Linked DNA regions of Homo sapiens: region 2 is linked to region 1. Evidence: fine-mapped expression QTL. Tissue or cell type: whole blood. Region 1 holds a variant in brackets; the other region holds the start of a gene. All regions are shown on one strand. Distances are from middle to middle.

Region 1 (7,711 bases):
ATTGCCCAGGGACGGGCAGGAGACAGATGCCTTCCTCTTGTCTCAACTGCGAAGAGGCATGCCTTCCTCTTATACTAATCCTCCTCAGCACGGACCCTTTACGGGTGTCGGGCTGGGGTACGGTCAGGTCTTTCCCTTCCCATGAGGCCATATTTCAGACTATCACATGGGGATAAACCTTGGACAATACCTGGCTTTCTTAGGAAGAGGTCCCTGCGGCCTTCCGCAGTGTTTGTGTCCCTGGGTACTTGAGATTAGGGAGTGGTGATGACGCTTAACGAGCATGCTGCCTTCAAGCATCTGTTTAACAAAGCACATCCTGCACAGCCCTTAATCCATTTAACCCTGAGTGGACACAGCACATGTTTCAGAGAGCACGGGGCTGGGGGTAAGATCATAGATTAACAGCATCTCAAGGCAGAAGAATTTTTCTTAGTACAGAACAAAATGGAGCCTCCTATGTCTACTTCTTTCTACACAGACACAGTGACAATCTGATCTCTTTTTCTTTTCCCCACATAGCCAGGCCCCCGCTGCTGGGGTAGCCCAGCCTACGCCTCCGGGGGCCTTCAGGGAAGAGAACCAGCTAAGGCTGGGGGGACCAGGAGAAGGGTCCCCCAAGGTTGGAAAGTGCATGCAGGAGGATGCTCAGCAGGGGCTGCAACAGGGGGGCCTTGGGAGCCCACCAGGCAGGGATCAGCAAGGGGTCTCACTCAGCGAGGGACTGCAAAGCCTCACTTCAGTCTCTAGGTCCAGGGATCAGGCTCACCAACTCCCTGCAGAGGCCCCAGCAGCAGGGGACCGCAGGCTCACAGCATGGACAGTGGGTGATATCTGTTGTAAGCTCTCCTCTTCCCTCTCCCGCTCCCCATGGCCTCCGCTATCAGAACATATTCTGCCTCTTGCAATATGGACAGAGTGGGTCCTTAAAAAAAATTACCTAAAATGTTAGCTCAGGGTTCACTTCCAGAAGAGAAAACAGGTGTAAGGGGTTCTGGGACAGGCCTGTGGAAATCGGGAGTGATACCAAGGCTGACTGTAGCATTGGGGATAAAAAGGAGGGAGGAGTCCCAGAGTAGGGTGGGGACCACATAGGACACCACTTCCTTAGGGCCCAGACAGAGGCAGGAGGTCTGATATCAGCAGTCAGTTGGGAGTTCCTAGGGGTCTGGGGTGGTGGAGAGAGACCTTCACAAGTTGGGCAGGCTGCTCTGCTTCACCCCAGATTAGAGGGCACTGCTGGACACCCACATGGCAAAGTGGCCAAATCCCAAGGGAAGACCCAAGGAGCCGAGTTGAAACTGCCCCCTGCTCCTGAACTCAGGGGTCAGCGATATTGCTGCTACTTGCTAAGCCCAGTTGCCCCTGTGTTATCCACTCCCCCTTGGAGACCTCGGGGCAGCATAGATTCCCCCCACCCAGGACTTGGAATGGGTCATCATTCAATGCTATTTAATTCCAAGGGTAGCCTGGACTCCAGACGACACATTCTTTTACTACTCTTCCTACTTTCCCATCCTAAATTAGGTCCAACCTCAAAGTTCAAATTTGAGTCAGAGGTTCTGCAGATATATAAGATGCCAGATACCCAGATAAAAAGTCAACCTAGAAATGTCTTTCATAAATTTCCTAGGGTCAAATTCAAGTCAAAAAATTAAGTTCCCTTGTCCTTTTAGGTTAAAGTCCAAAGGGAAAAAAAAGTCTTAAGGTCAAAGGATTCAAGCCCAAAGCAATCAAAGAGAGCCCAGGGATCCGTCAGAGCCCAGTGGTGTTAACCTCCTCCCCGAGGCTCTGTGCTCACCCAGTGAGCAAAGTGGCCCAGTAGGCACGGGAGGGCTGGGTGTCCTGGAAAGTGAGATCCTTCTCTCCACATCTCAGCATTTTCACTAGCCTGCCATGTGCTCCAGTTTTAAAAGACCCAGAGTTACTAGGAATGAGCAGATGGTGATAGCCTCAGCCTCCTGCTCGCCAACCACAGGGAAGTCCTTAGAGCAGCATGCAGGCCATGAGATGTCTCCAGGATCCCGGACCCAGCCCCATGTAGCCCTCTCTTCCTGCTACCTCAGTACTCCAGCAGGAATGCCCTGGCAGCTGATGGAAAGAGAGTAGACAGGGAAGACAAACCCTAGACCCCACAGCATATCTAACCAGGTGGAGGGTTAGCATTAGCCCTGGCGACCCCGCTGGGGTGGAGCAGGAAGCAATTTCTGCTGTCCTCCTCCCTGAGCGTATCTGTACAAGCAGTCATCACCTGCCTGGGTCTTATTTATAATACCTTCTCCTTTTCATATGTGTGAAATCTCATCATTTCCATTTCCCTCTGTATGCCCATTGCATGGATGTCTTCAGTCCTAAGAGATCCTGCCCCAGTCAGTGCAGCACAGCCCAGCAGGTTGCTGAGCTGAGCACCAGGGAGCAGTGGCTGTGTCCCACTGGCTCTCAGGACACTAGCTGTCCTCCACTGGGGATGTTCCCAGTCTTGAGCAGCACTGTTTCTGCAGCACAGTTGTCAGCAGTTGGGGACAGATGTCCACAGCTGTGCTTCCTCATGCGACTGCTGGCTTGCATCCCCAGCATGGCTCAGCTGGGGCCCTGGCAGTTGTGCTGGCTGCTGGCAGTCTTCACACACAGGGCTGGTCATTTGTGTTCAACCCCAGTGCCTTCCCTCCTTTTACTTTCTCTTTGCTTTCCGGCCCATATATTTACTTTTTCTGATCTGTTCCTCTAGATTTTGTCACTTGGGGGTCTCCCCTGGCAACAGAAAACAAAACCAGGCAATCCCAGGTTTGCCACAAGAATTGCTGTTGAAACAGTCCCACAGCTGCGCCCAAGAGATGGCGGCCATGGCCATCAGCCTCCCTGCCGTCAGCCCCTCTCTCCTGACTGGCTGTGCTCTCCTCAGGGAGGACTCCACTGAGCCCTCCTTGACACCTAATCCCTACATTTAAAAAATGCATTCCCTTAGGTCCTGAGCAACCCCAGACACCCACCCACAGTAACTATGCTGTCCCCAGGTATACCTAAAATATTTTCAATGTTTGATGCTGATCTTCTGTCCTTTAATTTGCCCAAATTCCCTACAGCCTCTGAGGGCTGCCCTGGCTCATGGAATGGCTTCTGATTCTTACGGAGTTGCTGTCTGCAGCATTGAATGGCCCCCCCTCAAGAGTGTTCTGGGTCACCTGGTTCCCTGGTGGTGACCTTGTCTGTTCCCAACGTCTGCCCTCCCCTCACATCAGGGAGCTTTCCTGTCCCCTAAGTTGGTCTGGCCCACTCCAGGGTCCCATGATCCCTCATCTCTGCACAGCCTGCCTCCTGACACCACTGCTCCCATTCTAAGGGTAAGACTGTGGTGTGTTTTTCAAACCATTCCAGTTCCTTCTGGATCTCCCAA[G/A]TAAACCCAATTCCCTGGGACAGACGGTTCTCAGCACAAGCCATTTGTATGGCCCTTGCTAGCTTTGGATGCGTATTGATTTCATTGTTTCTCTATCTCAACCCAAGAAAATAGCATATTCTCTGAAGGGCCCTGATTCCTTTTAATGCTGTTGTCCATTAACAAACTCTTACCTTTCTGTGGGCAAAGCCACGACTTTAGTCTCCCAATTCCTGGGTCAAAATGTACGTAATAGCCAGGCACGGTGGCTCATACCTGTGATCCCTGTAATATTCTGGGATGCCAAGGCGGGAAGATCACTTAGGGCCAGCCTGGGGAACCTAGTGAAATCCTGTCTCTACAAAAATAAAAATATAATTAGCTGGGCATGGTGGCACAAAACTGTAGTCTCAGCCACTCAAGAAGCTGTGGCGGGAAGATGGCTTAATCCCAGGAGTTCAAGGTTACTGTGAGCTTGATTGCACCACTGCATTGCAGCATGGGCAACAGGGAGAGACCCTGTCTCTAAAAAGAAACAACAAATTAAAACAAAATGTATGTAAGGCACAAATCGAGAGCCAAGCTGAGCCGCACAAGGGGACTAACTCAGCAGACCTAGGGATGTGTTTCGTGGGCTCAGGAGGGACCCTCCCCAGTCCCTGTTCTGGCAGGAGGCTTTGAGGACAGCTCATCTGGCACAACTCCACTGTGGGTGGTACAAGACTCATACCAGGTTGCACCGGCCCCTTGCTGCCTTCGCAGTTGGAAGTGGTGATCTCAGACCTGGCTGAGAACACAGTAAAGGCAGCAAGCCTGGGCCTGCCCTCCTCCATTCATGCCTCAGAGGTTGGGACCCTTCTGTAGCCTCCTCTGCACTGTCTCTCTTTGGATTAATAGGAGGCCCGTGCAGGAGTCAGAGAACACGGCTCTGAGCTGTGACCATCCCCAAAGCACTGCCCTGAGTTGCCAAAGGTCATATCCCCACATGGACCTTACTTTATACCAGCAAGATGGAACCTCCGGCCTGGGCCACTAGTTAAAAGCCAACCCTAAGACTGTAAGGATCAGCTCGTGGCTCCAAAGCTCTGTGGGGAACTGCCAAGGCCAGAAGCCAGTGTGGTCCCTGTGAAGCCCCCGCGCACACACCAGGCATCCCCAAAGCCTCAGACTTTATGTGGTTACTTGAGGACTCAAAGCTCAAAGCCTCTGCTGGATTTAAGGGGGCTTAAATAGAACACGCCTTTCTTCCCATTCCAATCCTGGGGCCTCCACCACAGTTGTGAGGGTCATAGCACATGCCAGAAGGCAGGGAGCACACAGCAAAGCAGGGCCCAGAAAGACTGAGCTAGACGGGGGGCGCTAAGGAGGTGCTTGTTTAGGGACATAAGCACCTCATGGGGAAACAAGGAGGTGAGGAAGAACGGCCCCCACTCCCAGCAGAAACACTGTGGTGGGAAGCTCAGGGAGGCTGGGGGTGGGCTGGGGAAGAGGCCAACAAAGTGGGAACAGCCCTCCGTATGGGCCAGTGTCTGGCAAGGTCTTAGTGGGATGGGGCAGTTGGGCAGTGCTTCTGCATGGCACGGTACCCAACGGTCGGCCTGGTGGTGGTGCTCTTCACTTCCTCTTCACTCCCTTCTACTGTGCATGTTAACTTTTGTATCAGGGAGTATGAGATATGGAAAAATGCATAAATGCATAAGGTTTAATAAATATATATAGGCACTTGTAAGAACAGAGAGAAAAATACTGCAGCACCCTGCCACCTCCCAAATGCCCCTGGCCAGTGGGACCGCTGTCCTGACAGTGATAGAAATCATTTCTTGGCTTTCATCACAATTTTCCCACCTACACGTGGTCCTCTGAACAGTACAGTTTGGGGGTCCTTGTTTTCAAACTTTATATAAATGGAACTGCATTATATATATATATCTTGTGGCTTTTGCTCAATATGTTTATGAGATTTGACCGTGGTGATATTTGTACCTATAGCTTGTTCATTTCACTGCTGTTGAATATTCCATGAATGAACAAGCATAATTTATCCAATTATTGATGGACATTGGGTTGCTTCGAGATACAAGTTTCTCCGGGATAAATATATCGAGGAGTGGGATTGTGGGCACGTTACAGCTGAGGAGGTTAGTAGTGGTGTGTCATGGTGGTTCTTATTTCCCTGATTTCTACTGACGATGAACAACTTTTCCATTGGATATTCTGTTTTGTGAAGTGGCTTCTAAAGTCCTTTGCTCATTTTTTTAAATAGGGTTTCCTAATAATGTAATGTTGAGATAGGAGATCAGCAGAACTTGTTTTCCAAGCACTGGTCAAGACCTTGGTCATGATCCCGCTGATCAAAACAGAATCTGGTCGGAACAGGATGCAGTGAAGAAATCAGCTGAAACCAGCTGGAACCAAGATGGCAACAAAAGTGACCTCACTTTTGTCCCTCACTGCTCATTATATGCTAGTGATAATGCATGCTAAAAGACATTCCCACCAGCACCATGACAGTTTACACATGCCACGGCAATACCCAAAAGTTATCTTATGTGATTTAAAAGGGGGAGGAACCCTCAGTTCCAGGAACTCCGGATCCCTTTGCTAGAAAATTCATGAATAACCTGCCCCTTATTTAGCATATAATAAGAAGTAGCTATACATATAGATAGCTGGTAGTCCAGGAGTGCTGCTCTGCCTATGGGGTAGCCCTGTAAACCCCATCCACCTGTATGGATGCTCTATGAAACCCACTTTTCTGTACTCTGTTGCTCTAATAAACTTGCTTTGCTTTCACTCTTTTCTGTTGGGTCACTCTCAAATTATTTCCTGTGCAAAGCCAAGAACGCTCTCAGGCTGAGCCCCAGTTTTGGGGCTCACTTGCATTAAGATAAGTTGCAGAAATTGTAGCATGTCTTTCATTCTTACGGTGTCTCACTAATAGTGTGTCAATCTTTCCTTATTGTATGTACTCATTTTATCTTACTTAAATCATAAAGATGATATTCTTCTACACCATCTTTTAAGATCTTTGTGGCCTTTTCTTTATGGCTGTAATCTATGTAGAACTGACTTTTGTGTGGGAGTTAAATAGGAGCCCAGTTTGATGTTTCTCCTTACATGGTAGCCAGCTGCCCAGCACCCCTAGTTGAATGAGTTCTTCTTTTCATGTGGATTTCAATGCTCCCCCAGTCTGATATTGTGTCCATGTGTGTGGAGAGGTCTGTTTCTGGATTGCTCTTTTTTCCATTGGTCTGTTGTCTGCCATGTTCTGATTCCACTTTGCCTTAATTGTGTAGCTTGATCATGTGTCTTAACATTGAAAAAGCAAATCCTCACACCTTGCCTTCTACAAGAAAATGTTTTGACTCTTCTTGGTCATTTAGAGTCTCATATAAATGTTAGAATTAGGTTGTCAATTCCCATAGAAAAATCTGTTAGAATTTTGATTGGGACTGTGCTGAATCATCAACCAGACAGAACTGTTACGAGCACAATATTGCCTCCAGTACAGAGATGCTGAGACCAACTCGATCGGGGAGACCCTAACCCAGCGGCGCTAGAGGAATTAAAGACACACACACAGAAATATAGAGGTGTGAAGTGGGAAATCAGGGGTCTCACAGCCTTCAGAGCTGAGAGCCCCAAACAGAGATTTACCCACGTATTTATTAACAGCAAGCCAGTCATTAGCATTGATAGATATTAGATTAACTAAAAGTATACCTTATGGGAAACAAAGGGATGGGCTAAAATAAAGGGATGGGTTGGGCTAGTTATCTGCAGCAGGAACATGTCCTTAAGGCACAGATCACTCATGCTATTGTTTGTAGTTTAAGAATGCCTTTAAGCAGTTTTCCGCCCTGGGTGGGCCAGGTGTTCCTTGCCCTCATTCTGGTAAACCGACAACCTTCCAGCATGGGTGTTATGGCCATCATGAACATGTCACAGTGCTGCAGAGATATTGTTTATGGCCGGTTTTGGGGCCAGTTTATGGCCAGATTTTGGGGGGCCTGTTCCCAACACAGAGACATGGTCAGTCTCTTCATTTATTTAGTTCTCCAATAACGTTCAGGGTGTTAGTTTTCTCTGTAGAGGTTCTCTGTAGAGTACATCTTGGATTTGTTTCTAGGTACAGGAAACTTTTTAAAAATATATTTTATATAGACCAGGGTCTCACCACGTTGCTCAGGCTGGTCTTGAACTCCTGGCCTTGGCATCCCAAAGTGCTGGGATTACAGATGTGAGCTACTGCACCCAGCCAGGAAATGTATTTTCTATTGCTCTCCCACAACTCCCACCACATCTTCTCCATCTGCATGAAATCATATTCTCTGTATG
Region 2 (6,961 bases), 71 kb before region 1:
GCCTCTCTGGAGGATCCATCGGGCAATAAGGAGGTTTCCACACCTTAACTGTGTCTGCCTTGACCTCTGGGGCCTGGGAGCAGAGCCCCCTCCAGCTGGTGGGGAAGGAAGCGTGGTGTGTTTGAGGACAGAATGGAGAGAAGTTGAGTAGAGCAAGTGTAGACTCTTCCTATCCAAAGTGTGGTCAATGGACTGGGAGTATCAGCATCACCAGGGAGCTTGTTGGAAATGCAGAGGCTCAGGCCCCACTCTGACCTTACTGATTGGGAGCATAAACTGTAACCAGATTCCAGGGAGGATTCATACACACATTCCCGTTTGATAAGTGGGGGGTAGTAGGAGGTGAGGTGAAAAGTGGGGAGGGGATGGCTACCGCACTGGAGAAGGCTGGCTTTGTGTTGAGGCCTTTCTCATGAGGGCAGTGGGGAGCCATGGAAGGCTTTATGCAAGAGAGGGTACGGGCAGATTGAGATTACAGAAGGATCCCACTGGTTGCCTTGTGTGAGGACCCAGGGAGAAGGGGGAGGCTGTCCCTGTTTGAGTAGGAGATGAGAGCTACTGGTGGCTATGAGTGGAAAGAAGTGAGCAGAGGTGAGCAGAAATCCCAAGGACTGGTGATGATAGGATGATGGTGGGAACCAGGATGGGCTTTGGGCAGACCCTGACCCCTCTCTCTGCCTGTCGGCCCACCAGATAATAATCCCTGTGTTCCTGGGCGAGTCAGTGCCACCCGAGATGTTGGCGGCCACTTTGGCTGAGCTGGACGGATGCCTGCAGCTGCTCGAGGACAAGTTCCTGCGGGACCAGGCCTTCCTTACTGGGCCCCGTATCTCTGTGGCTGGCTTGGTGGCAATCACGGAGCTGAGGCATGAGAGTGCCATGGGGTGCGGTGGCCCGCTGGGCAGTGGTGTATCCGGGAAGGGAGCTGACATCCCAGCTCATGTTGTCTTTTCTGGCTGTGGGACCCTGTGTGAGTCACTTCTCCTTCTGAGCCTCAGTGTCCTCATCTATAAAATGGGGCTTTACAAACCCCTCACCGCAGCTATATTAAGAGGCTTCCAAGTGTCCCCAGGGAGGGGGACATCCTAGCCCATCACACACATGGTGGAGGAGGGAAAATCCAATCAGAGAACCCCTAAAGCAGGTCATGCTGCCTTACACTTGGCTATGCCCAGCCCCTCCGCTGACTCTGTCTTCCCCTAGCCCATCAGTGCTGGCTGCTGAGTCTTTGAAAGCAGACCCACGGTGGCAGCATGGTGCCCAACACGTGGAGGCTGCAGTGCGGGAGGACTTCTTCCAGGAGGCCCTCCCAGCTGTCCTGAAGGCCAAGGACCTGCCTCCAGTAGAACCTGCTGTTAAAGAGAATCTGAAGACCTTAATGCAGCTTTTCTTGCTGTGAGTGCGTGTCCCACACTTGCTGAGCCACTGAGGGGATGCTGTGTTGGTAGAATAAAGACATGGAGCTGTCCGTCTCCTTGGTTGAAGAGAAGACATATCTGCAAAGGCTCTGGTCCACAGTTCCTCCAGATATCATGCCTGCATTCCTTTTGTCTCCTACCCCATTCCATTCTAGCTTCCATGTGACCTCTGAAAAGAGCTTGGGCAAACGCTTACTTGACCCTGACCTTCTGTGTGGAACTTTGTATGGTTCCTCACTGCCCAGAAGCTAAAGTACAAGTCATTGAACTTTGCATTCAAGGCCTTGCTCCCACTCCTCCAGGTGGCCCCTTCTGCCTGCACACTCCTAACCCCTCTCTGGGCTCCCACCTTGGCCTCTTGGCCTCCGCTCATGCTGTTCCCTCCTCATCTTCGCCTGGTGCCCTTCCTGGTCTTTTGGCATTTGGCACCCTGTCTCTTCTCCAGGGAGACTTCCCTGACCTCCCCAGCCCCAGTCCAGGTCAGGCGACCTCTCTGGGCTCCTCAGCCCCAGTGTTTCCTTGCGGGGGATACCCCCGGACTGAGCATGTATCATCGATGAGGGGTGACCTGGTGGAAAGATGTCTGAATCAGGATCAGCCTTGGTCTCCTCGGTCTCTCTCCTCACTGTGGGGCGATGTTGTGTTCCACAAGTGGGGTGCAGGGCTGGTTCATGAACCTCCTTGCAGGAAGGGAAGTCCCTGGTTATTTCCTGGCCCTCTCCCATGCCTCCTCATAACCTTGACCACAGTCTTCTCTACACCCCACTCCCGGACCACTGGCTTGTCCATGCCCCACACCTGGTCCCAGACTTGCCACCTGTCCCTGCCCTCTCCCCTTAGGACTGTCATATTTACCTGTCGTGTGTCTCAGACCTTCTGATATCTGAGTCATCTAATAAACAAACTGCTAATAGGACAAGATCATGACAGACAGAGACTCTGTCGGCCTTTCAGTGGAGGCTCCTTTAAGTATGCACACTTATAGAGAATTTTATACACGTAGTTGAAATTGTACATATAAACTTGCAAATTTTTTCTTTCTTTTTTGTGGGGGAGGGGGGAGCCTGGGTCTCACTCTGTCATCTAGGGTGGAGTGCAGTGGCACAGTCATAGCTCCCTGCAGCCTAGATCTCCTGCGCTCAAGCAATCCTCCTGCCTCAGCCGCCCAGGTAGCTAGGACTACAGGCACACACCACAGCACCCAGATTTCTTCTTTTTTTTTTTTTTTTTGTAGAAAATAAAGAAGAGAATCTTGCTATGTTGCCTAGCCTGATCTTTAACTCCTGGGCTCAAGCAATCCTCCCTTCTTAGCCTCCCAAAGTGCTGAGATTACAGGTGTGAGCCACATTGCTCGACCACAACTTCAGTCATATTTGTAATGTACAATTCAAGTGATTTTGCCACACTGACCACACTCATGTTTAAGCCACGCCAACAGAGTTCCATGTTTTCTGATGTTTTTTCGAGATGGAGTCTCGCTCTGTCACCCAGGCTGGAGTGCAATGGCGCGATCTCGGCTCACTGCAACCTCCACCTCCCCGGTTCAAGCGATTCTCCTGCCTCAGCCTCCCGAGCAGCTGGGATTACAACGTCTGCCACCACGCCCGGCTAATTTTTGTATCTTTAGTAGAGACGGGGTTTCGTCATGTTGGCCAGGCTGGTCTCAAACTCCTGACCTCAGGTGATCCGCCCGCCTGGACCTCGCAAAGTGCTGGGATTACAGGCGTGAGCTACCGTGCCCGGCCTTTCCATGTTTTAAAGAACATATTTTGCCACCCCCTGGTGGACAGTGGCTCACCACCGGCACAAGAGGCTACACAGGCAGATGTCAATGGGGACCAGGCAGGGACAGGTATTGTCGTGAGCCTAGCCCTACCCGCGCCCCCGCGAGTAACCACATCTCCTGACTGCCCAAGCGCAGATTTCCATACTGAACATGAAATTGCCTGACTTCGAAATGGTGGCAAATCATTCAAAAAAACTTTAAGCTCCCGTTGTATTGGTTATTAGGGTCGAGCCTGGGGAAGACCCCTATAGGTGTGTGTGTGTCCTTGTGTGTCGGGGGTGTGGTGTTCAGACCTCTAATAGGGCTAGGAACCGGGCGACCACAGCGCGGAAGCTTGAGAGGGAAACCCACCTGGCGCCAGGCAGGAGGGTCGGGGGAGACAGGGTGGGTCCACTACCGGGTTAAAGACCTGTAGTGGGTGGGGCTACACGTAGGGCGGAGACGATGGGACTTCCGGAAATCAGCCGGCACACGTGACTTTTGTTTGCAGAAGCGGGAGGTACCCTAGGCAGCCAATCGGGGAGCGCCGAGTCTCTGTCCAGCCAATGAGAAGCCAGGTTGCTGTGGCGCCTCGCCCCTCCTCCCTGGTCCGCGAGCCTTGGGTACCCCCAGCTTTTCTTCCGCCAGAGCTGTTTCCGTTCCTCTGCCCGCCATGCCGTTCCTGGAGCTGGACACGAATTTGCCCGCCAACCGAGTGCCCGCGGGGCTGGAGAAACGACTCTGCGCCGCCGCTGCCTCCATCCTGGGCAAACCTGCGGACGTAAGCGTGGGCCGGGCAGCACGGGGCGAGGGGAGGTTGGTGGGCCAGGGGTCCGGCCCTGTCCCTGCTCCGCCTCCCCGACAGTGACCCCGAATCTTTTCCCCAGGGACCACTCCCCACTCCTTTCCTCACGCCAAGCTCTGACTTTCCGTGCTCCACGATCCCGCGGCTCCCCCTCCGCACGTCTTTCCCTTGTCGCCCTCCCCAGTCATGACCCGGGCGTGACCTTCAGGGACCGCGGCCCGTATCGGGATCCCTGCCCCGCGAACACTGCGCGTTTCGGCTTTCGCGCGCTCGGGTCCCGTCCCCAGAGGTAGCCCGGCCGGCTCCAACTTCGGGCAAAACTTTTCATGTCCCCCTCAGCGCGTGAACGTGACGGTACGGCCGGGCCTGGCCATGGCGCTGAGCGGGTCCACCGAGCCCTGCGCGCAGCTGTCCATCTCCTCCATCGGCGTAGTGGGCACCGCCGAGGACAACCGCAGCCACAGCGCCCACTTCTTTGAGTTTCTCACCAAGGAGCTAGCCCTGGGCCAGGACCGGTGCGTAGGGGTAGTAGGGGATCCATGTGGGACTGCCGCAGACTGGAGCCACTGATCCTGCCTCAGGGGGAAAAACCCATTTCTTGCCCTGCCCAGTAAGGACACATCAGGGTCTGGAGCTTTGGGGCCCCCTGACCCCTTAGGTTCCTGCTGTTAGGACCATCTTCAAAGTGCGAGCAGGATTGAATGAATTTCTGGCTCTGCTCCTCAGTGTGTAAGTCTGTGAACCGGGAAGGCTCTCTTTTAACACCCCCGGGGCAGTGCAAGGGTCATGTGGGATTGTCTGTGTGCTGTACCTGCCTTGGCACCTGACAGGGTAGGTACACGTGGCTGAAGTGTGATTTTCTAGAACTTTTCCAGGCTGGTCAGAAGGAATTCTGGGTATGTTCTGAAGTTACGTATTTTGGACCTGTGTCCCAGCCAGGTTCCAGGTGAAGTTCACGGGAGACTCACAGAGTAGTGAAAGACCATTGGCCTGGATGTCTAGACATCTGCTTTCTGGGTCCTGCATAGCTGGGGGACCCCAGACAAACTTGGAAATGAACCATCTCCAGTTGGCAACCTCCTCTTCTGTGAATACAGGGGAAAAGACCTCCCTCCCCCACAAGAAGCGTCTGCAACCCAAACCTGGCGTTCTGTGACCGAGTTAAAGTTTCCTCTTGGGTAAAAGATATTCTTGAGCCACATCCATGTCTAGGAGGAAGTAAGGGCATGAGAAGCTTGAAAGGACACTGTCCAGGCACGGTGGCTCATGCCTGTAATCCCAGCACTTTGGGAGACCAAGGCGGGAGGTTCATTTGACCCAGGAGTTGTAGACCAGTCTGGGTAACATAGTGAGATGCCATCCCCCAAAACAGTTTTAAAAATTAACCGGACATGGTGGTGTGCACATGTAGTCTCACTTAGTTGGCAGGCTGAAGTGGGAGGATGGTTTCAGCCCAGGAGGTTGAGGCTGCAGTGAGCTATGATTGCGCATTGCACTCCATCCTGTGTGACAGTGAGACCTTGGCTCACAAAAAAAGACCTTCTGAAATGGAGCCTTTGTTAGTCCATGAAGGTCGATGAGGAATGGCTGATCCTGCTGGGTCCTCCCTCAAGCTACAGAGGAATAATACAGTCAGCCCCCTGTATCACTGGGTTACGCATCTGTTGATTCAAACAACCATGGATTGAAATATTAGAGGAAAAAAAATTGATAATTGCATCTATACTGAAAATACGTATAGACTTTATTCCTTGTCATTATTCCCTAAACAATACAACTATTTACATAGTACGTACATTATATTAGGTATTATAAGTAACCCAGAGATTATTTAAAGTATATGAGAGGATGTGTGTAGGTTACATGCAAATATTACACCATTTTATGTAAGGGACTTGAGCAAATGTAGATTCTGGTTTCCTCTGGGGATTCTAGAACAAATCTCCCACGGATACTCAGGGAAAACTGTTACTCTAACAACAAGTGTTATACACTTACCATGTGCTAGGTCCTCTACAGGTACTTTACACTCATGATCCCATTTGATCCTTACAATCCCTATCCACTCTCCCTTTGCTCAGACAAGACATGCTATCCCCATGAGGTAGATAATCTCCATTATGCCAATTTTATGATGAGAAGACAGGCTGTTCATACTCCCGCCCGCCCCAACCAGGCTGTCCCAAGTTCTGGTTTTCCTCACTGGAAACTTGCTGTTACCTCTGAGAGGGGCATGTTCACTTATGGCCCAGACATTAGTGGCGGGGTTGGTGGGGTGGGGGGTCACCCTGTGCTCAGCCTTTGAGAAAACAGGTGGCTGAGGTACTGTGCCCTTAGGGAGCCTGCAATTAGGAGGCAGGGTACCCCTCAGTACACAAACTGATGGAGATGATAGAGTGTACGGCACACACACCGAGGCTACTGTATTGTGTGTCTGTCCTAGCTGGGTCATGATGTGCGGCTACCTCCCACACCTGAGTGTCCCACTGCCCTGCTGGGGGTTGGGGAAAATCATTATTGGGATGAGCAGGTTTGCAAAATGCCTGGTGGACTGAGGCAGGCTGTCCTGAGTACCCACAGTGGGAGTACCTGGCAGGGGTCTTGCAAGATGTGGTATTAGCCAAGGAGCTGATGATATCTTTTTCTCTGTCTCCTGAAGGATACTTATCCGCTTTTTCCCCTTGGAGTCCTGGCAGATTGGCAAGATAGGGACGGTCATGACTTTTTTATGATTGGGCACGGAGGGATCCAGGGCATCTGTGAACTGGCTGCTTCTTCCAGAGAGATCTCTTGGCAGAGTGAGGGCCTGGAGATAACCAGCTTTGGATTATCCCGCATGCAACATTCCTGTGATCACATAATCCTCTTCTTCATCCTCATATGAAATAAATGAAGAGAGCTTCCTCATTCAAACATGACTTCTTACCTTCTATTATCTCTCCTGGGCATCTGGGGCCACCATGGGCAGCAGGG

Evidence for each region. PIP is the estimated chance that this variant, and not a neighbour inherited with it, causes the effect.
Region 2: DDT starts here. The variant in region 1 is fine-mapped to the expression of DDT in whole blood (TOPMed, PIP above 0.99).

What each region holds. Positions count from the first base shown.
Region 1 is chr22:23,899,892-23,907,602 of GRCh38, reverse strand. No RefSeq gene overlaps it. Among named protein-coding and RNA genes, the nearest start is that of MIF-AS1, 4.8 kb to the right of the region's middle. RefSeq lists an enhancer at 1-759. The variant G/A (reference allele first, on the strand shown) is at 3,395.
Region 2 is chr22:23,971,310-23,978,270 of GRCh38, reverse strand. It overlaps DDT (D-dopachrome tautomerase), which reads left to right and starts at 3,830. Exons shown (of 3, transcript NM_001084392.3): 1 at 3,830-3,964; 2 at 4,328-4,503; 3 at 6,648-6,901. The coding sequence starts at 3,857. The coding sequence ends at 6,720. DDTL (D-dopachrome tautomerase like) reads right to left here. Exons shown (of 3, transcript NM_001084393.2): 3 at 5,715-6,961. The coding sequence ends at 6,865.